2 linked regions of the Homo sapiens genome follow. The protein of the gene in region 2 interacts with the protein of the main gene of each other region in a biochemical or structural test. Each region holds a gene or a part of one and is shown on either strand. Other genes may lie near its edges.

Region 1 (4,289 bases), on a different chromosome or scaffold from region 2:
CATCAGCTCTGTCACCAGGTACACGTGTTTGCCATCATCATACACCTGCCGAAGACCTCACCATCAGGCTCTTCTCCCCAGTGTCAGGCCTGAGCCCCCTGGTCAGCAGCGCCCCAGAGCAGGGAAGAATGACATGAGCCTTGGGCAGGTGTTCTGCTTGCTCTTCAGTGGTCCTGCCTTCCCCAAAAGGAGGATGCTGACACTGGTCTCCTGATACGCAAGAAGGTCCTCAGAAAATGTCTGAGTCTGAAGGAGGGCCCTTGGGGTATGGGCAGACTGAAGGGACCAAGGGACCTCCTTCCCCTCCACATGACCACTGGAAAGAGGATGAGAAGTCAAAGGAATGGCAATCCTGAGACAAATCCTGAGAGTTGAGTTCCTGGTCCCCACCCCAGTCTTAAGGACCCCCACTCACATCTTTCAGAGTGATGATGTTGGGGTGCTGGCCATACCGCAGAAGAATCTCAATCTCTTCTGAAGGATCCCGCTTGCTCTTATCAATGACCTGAAGAAAGGGGGTGCATGTGGCAGTGTCAGGGTGACAGGGTCCAGGGTCCTTTCTGGCCATGGAGCAGGCCAGGAGGTCTCGGCCACACACCTTTCATACATCTGCAGAGCTCAGGCACCATCCCTCCCCACCAGACGGGGACCTGCCCCCAACCCAGCAGCCTTGGCCGAGACGTGGTCAGGAGGCCCACCTTGACAGCATACTCCATGTTGGTGGCCTTGTGGACACAGCGCTTGCACTCAGAGTAGGAGCCCACACCAATTGTCTCCTTTACCACGTAGCCGTCACTAAAAACCAGGTTCTTCCCATGGAGTTGCTGTAGGAGACCAAAAATTGTGGCTGACCCCTGGCTCTAGAGTGCTAGGGGTCATCCCCCAGGACCTAAGGTCTTGGCTCAGTAGAGACAGCACCAGGGAAGGGCCAGGAGACTTGGGGTAGAGTGTTGGCCATGTGACCGCAGGTGACAGCCTGCCCCTCTCTGGGCCTCAGTTTTCTACTCTATATAATGGGCATACTCACTGGCTCCCAGCCTGCCTGGACTGCAGCCTGTGGTCAGAGGGCAGTGTAGGGAGTGGGAAACAGGGTCACAACACACATGGAGAGGACTTTAGTTCTGAAAAGTCTGGGCAGGCCTGGGAGGGACGCAGGAGCCCTGAGCTGAGTTCCAGCTGTGCCACTAAGTACGGCTTTGAGTGGCCTGCCTCCCTTTCTGGGGTGTCACAGCTCAACTCATGGGGTGTCTCAAGGTTCTGGGACATTAGCCGTAGCAATGCTGAATGGTGCTTAGTGTGTGCTGTGTGCCAGGCACTATTCTAAGCACTTTCATCAGGTGACTGCATGCCCCACGGCCAGCCCTGGCTTGCGCATGCGGTCCTTGCATCCAGTCTGATTTAATATTTGTCCTGGACTAAGATGTCCCAGTTTGGAAAATAAATTACATAGTCACCTTAACTTTATTTTTTATTTTATTTATTTATTTTTTGAGACAGAGTCTTACGCTGTTGCCCAGGCTGGAGTGCAGTGGTACGTTCTCAGCTCACTGCAACCTCTGCCTCCCAAGTAGCTGGGACTATAGGCACGCGCCAACACGCCCAGCTGATTTTTGTATTTTTAGAGACGGGGTTTCGCCATGTTGGCCAGATGGGTCTGTTTAAATTCCTGGCCTCAAGCAATCCACCCTTCTTGGCCTCCCAAAGTGCTGGGATTACAGGCATGAGCCACCGTGCCCAGCCCACATGAACTTTACATGTATTAACTCTAATAATCCTCATAACAGCTCTATGGAGGAAGCTTCTATCATTTCCCCCATTTACAGATGAGGAAACTGAGGCACGAGGAAGGGAGTATCTCATCCAAAGTCCATTATCTGGTCAGGTGCTCATGTCTGTAATCTCAGCACCTTGGGAGGCTGAGGTGGGCGGATCACTTGAGGTCAGGAGTTTGACACCAGCCTAGCCAACATGGTAAAACCCCGTCTCTACTAAAAATACAAAAAAAAAAAAAAAAAATTAGCTGGGTGTGGTGGTGTATATCTGTAGTCCCAGCTATTCGGGAGACTGAGGCAGGAGAATTTTTTGAACCTGGGAGGTGGAGGCTGTAGTGAGCTGAGATTGTGCCACTGCACTCCAGCCTGGGCAACAGAGCAAGACTACGTCTCAAAAACAAACAAACAAAAAACCCCAAAGTCCATTATCTTGTGAATCTGGAACCCATGCAATGAGCTCCACAGTCTACATTCTTGCCTCTCAACCTGAAACTTTCATTAGCAGTAGAAGTGTACAAATGGGGAACAAGTGTGATGAGATCCAAGTCCTTCGCTACACTTATGCCGGAGACACGACAGTCACTCGGCACCACCACCCTGGGCACCTCCTGACATGTACCCAGACCCTGGCTCTGTGCTGGGAAATGTACACCCATATCATCATCCAATTATCAGGGCCACTGTGTGAGGTGGGCCTTACTGTCCCTGTTTTATGTTGGAGGCCCTACTGGTCCCACAGTGGCATGAGGGTATGAACCTGGTTCTGTCCAACTCAGAGCCTGTGTACTCAGCCATTCTTTAGAAAAGGATAATGGAGCAGCAGCCCCCTGCCCCCCTCACCTGTACCACCGAGTGCAGGGGTGCCTGCGGGGCACGAGGCTTGCCGTCGTCTTCCATCAGGCCGGTGGCCACGAAGCTGAAGCCCCGGAACAGCTGATGGGCCCCAGCGCTGGGGGGGATGCCTGGGGAATCTGTACGGATGGAAGGAGAATGTGAGGGTACCTGAGGAGGTCCCCTCGACCCTGAGGCAGCCCAGCAAAGGGGGAGCACAGGGCCTCCAGACCTGCCTCAGGGGCTGGCCGTGGCGGGAGCCTGCAGAGGGCCTGTCCATCACAGGCCTTGGCCCAACTGCTCATATGTGTTTATTAGACCAGCCCAGTCCTGTCGCATGAGGAACAAAAAAGACTCTCACATCCACCTCCATCCCAGGCCAAGACAGTTCATCCCTTCCTGGATGCTTCCTCCCCAGCTTCCCCATCTTACGTCAGCCCCTTCAGGTCCATCTCTGCACAGCAGCCAGAGGGAAGGTTCCAACCACAAATCTGCCACCCTGCCCACACCTTTCAAAGGTTCCCGTCTGCCTTCAGGAGTAAGTCCAGCTCCTGAGTCTGGCAATTGAGGGCCCTGTGATCCTCACCTCCTCTCTCTCCATACCACAGCTGAGCCATGTTGGACTTCTCAGATCCTTAGAGGGGTCTCTGAGCCCTTGCACACACTGTTCCCTTTAACTAGATAATCCACTCCTTGCCTATCCTTCAAGACTCAACTCGCACGCTCCCTCCTCTGAGAAGCCTTGCCTGATGCTGCTCCTCCGGCCCCTGACTCCTACGAAGCTGCACTTGTCACGTTGCCCAGCGGACTGCTTGGAGAAGTGCTGTCTCTGTCATCAGAGGCGTGCAAGTGCAGTGAGAAAAGCACCCCCTTGTGGATCACCTGAGGTCAGGAGTTCGAGACCAGCCTGGCCAACATGGTGAAACCCCGTCTCTACTAAAAATACAAAAATTAGCCAGGCGTGCTGACACATGCCTGTAATCCCAGCTACTCGGGAGGCTGAGGCAGGAGAATCTCTTGAACCCAGGAGGTGGAGGTTGCAGTAAGCTGAGATCACGCCATTGCATTCCAGCCTGGGCAACAGAGCGAGACTCCATCTTGAAAAGAGGAGAGGAGAGGGAAGGGAAGGAGAGGGAAGGGGAGGGGAGGGGAGGGGAGGGGAGGGGAGGAGAGGGGAGGGGAGGAGAGGAGAGAAGAAAAGCACACCCTCTCCTAAAACATGCCCTTATAGGAGGTTTCCCAGAACATTCCACCCCACACCCACTGTCAATATCTGGCCAAAAAGTTAGGATTCACCAGGTTCCTTCCCAGAAGCTCCCTCACTGGCTTCTTGTAGCAACCCCAGGGAATGAGTGGGTTTGTGGCTGTGCCCTTGTTCCAGATAAGTACACGGAGGCCGGGCAGTCAGGGCAGCCAAAGCTGATTCCCATGCCTGTCCCTGACCTATGGGCACTGTCACCTCTGCTCAGCCACCACACAGTGTGGCTGGGTCAGATTCTTTCTCCCTGACGTGATGGTAAGCCTGATGTGTTTGGTCTTCCCAGTGGGCTGGAAGGTGCCCCGGGCAGGGGTCCTGGCTTTTCTACTGTGGCCTTCACCACCCACACATCCCCACTCCCACTCTCTCACCAGACACAAAGAGACCCACAGAGCCCCATAGTGAGAGAGTCGGGCGGAGTGAGACAG
Region 2 (5,080 bases):
TAAGATCCTGGGGGATGATGGTCCCAGGTGACAAGTGAAAGCCACAGCGAAAGAATCTCAGCACAGCAGCACCTTGGGCTCATCAGACTCACCTACACTCTTGATGTGGAAATTGCAGCTATGAGGCCTCCTTGTATGGAAAACGAGAACCTCCTTATCCTCTCATCCTAGCCTGGATCATTCTAGTGCCAAAAGCCTACGGAGGCCTGGGGCAGCACCTAGAGGGTGCAGGACCCATGAGCCTGAGCTCATTTGACTGCTGGCCCCAGCTCAGCCTGGCCACTTCCTCCCCACACCCCTTTGGGTCATGCTCAGAAAACATATGGGAAGTGAGACTTTCAGAATGACTTGACTGAAGCGTGGGGGACTTGTGAGCCCTGGGATCAGCCACCTCTCCATGCACAGTGGAAATAATGAAAGCTCCAGGTGAGAGCTCTTGTAACCCACATTGTTTACAATGGACAGCATCCCACAACAGACACATGCCAGGACAGCAGCACATGGAATGTGGAAACAGCACTGAACTTGAACTTGGAGACAGAAAACCCAGGTTCTGTAACCTTGATTGAGCCTTACCTTTCTCATTTATAAAATGACAAAAGAAGATGCAAGAAGTCAATCTACTGAAAGTGGTTCACAAGCTAAAAGGCTCTCTTCAAATGGAAGGTCTTACTGTGGTCAAGTGCTACAGTGTCCCACCATCACAGGACGCAACCTGGGTCTGATGTGAGCAGGCTACTCAAGCTACTTCCCCTCTGGCCCAACTAAGGTGGCCACACAGCCATAATAAGCCATTGGTTACTGCAGATGCTTACAAAGGAAACCTACCTTTAATGTTGCTTCATCCAGAACCTTCACCTCCTCGATGAGTTTTTTTAATTCTTCTGAGCTCAGCAGGGAGATAACGGACTGACCAGACTGAAGGGAACTGTGGTCCCCATCATCGTCTTCCTTGGCTTCCGTGAGACCCTCTGTATATTCTCTCAGCTCTGAAAGGCTTTCATAAGGAGAAACAACACACAGTATGAACAACAATATTAAAAAGAGGTAACAGTGATTGTATAATTACTATGTCCCAGGTGTGGTGCCAAGCACTTATGTGCATATTATTTGATGCAACAAATCTATGAGTAGATACTAGCATACCTTCACTCTACAGATATTTCCCAGCAGTGTAAGAATAATAAATAAAACTAATAAATGCAGAGCTACTTTGATCAGAGGGAAGACCAAGCCCCAGCCCTACAGCAGGGACCCTATGGCACGTCTGACATCCTCTTGGTTCTGCATAGAAGGTCTCATCCATCTCCTAATTTCAACTGACAAGGAATCTGAGGGTGAGCATGGAAAGAACCTGCTCATAGTCAGAATCAGTGCCTAAGCTGAGACTAGGACCCAGACATCCTAACTCCCTGACGAGGGAGTTGAACCCACGTGCAGAGTACAAGTGGATTCCATTTGGAGAGTAAGAATTCCTGATGGATAATTTCCTGGCCTCATTCTGGTCTTTCTGAGTAACCGCAGGACATTTCAGATGTGCATCAACCTTCCAAATCTCCACAGGCGTATGTCAGCCCTCATGAGCAATTCACCAGGGAGCCAGTCCCACCTCCTACCTCCCAGCCCTCCTGAAGCCAGATGTTGTGAAAACTCCTCCTTAATGTGAAAGGCAGAGGTGTAATACCTACAGACAGACACACACACACTCAGACATCTGCACACACATGGAAAGAAAGAGGCAGAACAATTCTTTAATCAATATATCTGGGAATTTTTTAAATTATATATAGGATTATTTTTAAAAATAAAGATGAGAAAGAAAAAGATGAGAAAGGTAAAGAGAAACACCGGGTGTAGAAACTCACTTGAGCGAGAACCCTGTGTCCAAGGCAGATGTTTCAGCAGAACCATTTGCAGCTGAGTCTTCGTTGGATGATGATGTTGGAGATGCCCCTTCCTTGGGGATGCAGGGAGTCTGGGCACAGGAGATAGAAGATGGAAGGCACAGCAAGGATTTCATGACAGCCGATGACACTTGGCTGCTGATAGAATAGAGTTTGCTGGTCTTTTCGTCAAGTAGCTTCGTCTCACAGGACTGGGACCTGGTCAGGGGGAAGCTCCGTGCTCGCTGGCTAGGCATCTTGAGCACTGGGCCTTGAGATTCCTCAGCCTGTGTTGACAGCAGCCTTAGGAGCGGGTCCGGGCCAGGGGGGAGAGTTTTCTGATTGGGCTGCCGCCCTGGGGGAGGGGACTCAGACACACCTGGGTCTCTGGCCTCGGAGGCTGCAGGGGACCCCGAGGACAGTACTTGCTCAGGCTGCTGGGGCACAAGAGTGGGTGCAGCCCCTCGCCCCAAGAGTCCAGAAAACCGTCCTTCCTCATGCTTCCCAAGAGGTTTTGCTGCCTCCCCAGAGGAGGGCTGGAGGCTCAGTCTCTGGGCTCCTTTGTCAGGCAGTTGAGAGGAGCCAAAGGTTTCAAAGGAGCTGATTCTCTGCCTGATGGAGGAGGAGGAGGAGGAGGCCCGGATGTGTGATCCTAGGTGCTCCCTGGAAGCAGGTGCTGGCTGGGTGGACAAGGCAGGATCAGGGAGCCCTCTTGGGTCTGAAGCACGATTCCTCAAACCTTTCAAGCTTTGGCGAAACCAGGCTGGCTTGGGAGCCACAGGAGGACCTTTCTTCACAGTGCTGCTGTCTGCTGACTTGTAAACTTTGGGAGTGCCATTGGCGGTGTCCAGCTTTGGTGGGGTCCCATCTGGGTGGCCCTGTGTCCCTTCTTCTTCATTCAGGCTGGCATTGGGCTGTAGAGGCATGTGGCCATGGTTCTCACTCATGATGGGGCTAAATAAGTTTTTGATGCAGTCAGAAATCCTAACCCAAGGGTCTTCGGCTGTGGTATCAAAGCTATAGTCCATCCGAGCCTGCCTCTTAAGCAGTGGGTGTTTTATCGGGGATGTTTGGGTCACTACAGTGCAGAAACAAGGCCAAAGCTGTGCATTACATCATACAGTGACTTTTCTTCCTAAATTCTAGTTTCCAAGCTGAACAGCAAGAAGGATTCAAGAGGAGGAGATTAGCAGAAGTGGGGGACACCCAGGTGGGTGAACTCCAGGTGCTATTACCTGACTGAGCTGCCAACAGGCAGGAGTGAAGGACCAGAAGTAGGAGTTAATCTCACAGTATCCTAGTGTTTTAGGCCTGGAAGGGTGCTCAGAGAATATCTGGGCCGACCTCTGGCATATTACATTTCAAGAAGGGTAAGGGGCCATCTGATGGCAGTGCTCAGGCAAGACCCTGTGTCTCCTGACTCTTGAAGTTCATGTCCTTTCTACTGCACTAAGGAGCCTCCAAGATACCATGTTAAATGTGTAAAAGCCAAAGCAGTTCTCCTGCCGTTTAAACTTTTAAGACAAAGGTCATGAGTTGGCAGCTGTTTGTGCTTTGACCTACCCGTGTCATTAAAAACAAGGTGCCTGTGCACAGCTTCTGATGGGGCCACTTCGGCTTCCCACAGCTCTTCACGCTCCCTCTCACCCAGCCAGCATTTCCCATGTATGTACCTGCCTGGCCCTGAAGCCGTGTGTTTGCTGCTCTGCCTATACACAGGTCATTGATCAGCTTGCTCTCGGCAAAGGAGTGTTTTCCCTCCCTCAAAAGCTGATGAAAAGGTTCCAGGTAGAAAGGAATCTGTGAAGTAGGATTCTCCACCTTGGCTACATACTGGAATCTGGAGGGCCCTGAAAAATACTGACGCCCACCCCTAGGTACTGACTGAAGATACCTGGGATGCAGCCTGGGTGTTGGGAATGTGATGAGCAGGGGATTGCAATGTGCAACCTGCTCTGTGCCAGCCAGGACCTCAGGCATGCCCTGGAGCACATAGGAGTCTTTCTCAGAAGCCAGCATTGAACCAGCATCATATCTGCATGGGTAAGGGAGAGGGTGTCCTGGCTCTCTTTCCCAGGGGCAGAGGGAGGCTGGCCTGTGTGCCTTGGGGGATGCTTGCTACTGGAACGCAACCCAGTTGAAGGAACTCTGATCCCTCCTGTCCCTTGTCTCAATGCCAGGTTTCAAAAGAAGTGAATCATGGAGCATTACACCTTGATGATATCAAAGAGAAATTCTGCACAATCTAAGAGACTGGCCTTGGGCAAGTGAGCCCAGGCCTCCAGCCTGTTTCTGCATTTTTGAATGGCTTGGCTGTAAGGTGCTGTTGTGAGAATCAGGAGGCAGAGGTTCCACAGGCAAGCCCTTTGCAGATTGGAGTGACAACCTCCTGTCAGTTAAACACTGAGGCGTTTGCTTTTGCTAGAATGTTCCTCAATTAGGGTGACTAAGGGAGAGGAGCCTCCACCCACAGGGCCTCTGCTCTGGGTGAGATGTGCTAGATCTTTCCAAAATGTCCCTTAGCCCTCCAAAAGTCTTTCATGAGCTTTTCTGTAGTGTTACTCAAACAGTCATATGTTTTATAGTCTATATGTTTATTTCCTGCCACTACTAGTTGCTCCTTGGAGGCAGGACCTGACTACCTGGTCTCATCCCTTTCTCTCTCTCCCCCCAGCATCTAGCACAGGGCCTCACGAAGCCAGCATTCAATGTGTGCTTGCTGAATGCATCATATGCTTGGGGTCTACGTGCTCTTCCACACATTGCTGATGAGTGAATCTGGGCTCAGAAAGGCAAAGTAGGTTGCTCAGAATCATACTAATGACAGACAGATCCAGGATTCCCTGACTTCAAGTCCTATGCTCTCTCTAGCAAGCAAATAAATATTCAAGTCATGTCTTAGCATTGTCAGGTGTACCATGTGGACACACCCTTGCTATCCACCTCATGGAGGAGGTGACCACTGGTAGATGCTATTTATACTTTTCTGGCGTTGCATTCTCTGACTCAGAAATCCTGAATGCAGCAGGACTGTTGCAACTGGAATGTTGGCACCCTAGAGGTAGCTGCCCAGGATGGCTGGGTGGGTGTGTCTTTGGACCTCTTCCAAGGGCTCCATCCTCCCAATTATCCAGAATGGCCTGCATTCCTGCTGCCACCCCCACAGCATCACCCGTCCACCCAGGAGGCTCCCCACC

Evidence for each region. The genes of interacting proteins can lie anywhere in the genome.
Region 1: the proteins of IL16 (region 2) and RPS6KA1 interact in a test that uses a peptide from one of them, tested with the Homo sapiens proteins (one large-scale study listed by IntAct).

What each region holds. Positions count from the first base shown.
Region 1 is NC_000001.11:26,557,261-26,561,549, reverse strand, and holds part of RPS6KA1 (ribosomal protein S6 kinase alpha-1), read right to left. Parts: intron 2,744-4,289; coding exon 2,613-2,743; intron 825-2,612; coding exon 699-824; intron 506-698; coding exon 416-505; intron 46-415; coding exon 1-45. UniProt on the Homo sapiens protein: Serine/threonine-protein kinase that acts downstream of ERK (MAPK1/ERK2 and MAPK3/ERK1) signaling and mediates mitogenic and stress-induced activation of the transcription factors CREB1, ETV1/ER81 and NR4A1/NUR77, regulates translation through RPS6 and EIF4B phosphorylation, and mediates cellular proliferation, survival, and differentiation by modulating mTOR signaling and repressing pro-apoptotic function of BAD and DAPK1.
Region 2 is NC_000015.10:81,297,261-81,302,340, reverse strand, and holds part of IL16 (pro-interleukin-16), read right to left. Parts: intron 3,038-5,080; coding exon of another isoform or gene 2,994-3,037; exon of another isoform or gene 2,962-2,993; coding exon 1,866-2,961; intron 998-1,865; coding exon 829-997; intron 1-828. UniProt on the Homo sapiens protein: Interleukin-16 stimulates a migratory response in CD4+ lymphocytes, monocytes, and eosinophils. Primes CD4+ T-cells for IL-2 and IL-15 responsiveness. Also induces T-lymphocyte expression of interleukin 2 receptor. Ligand for CD4.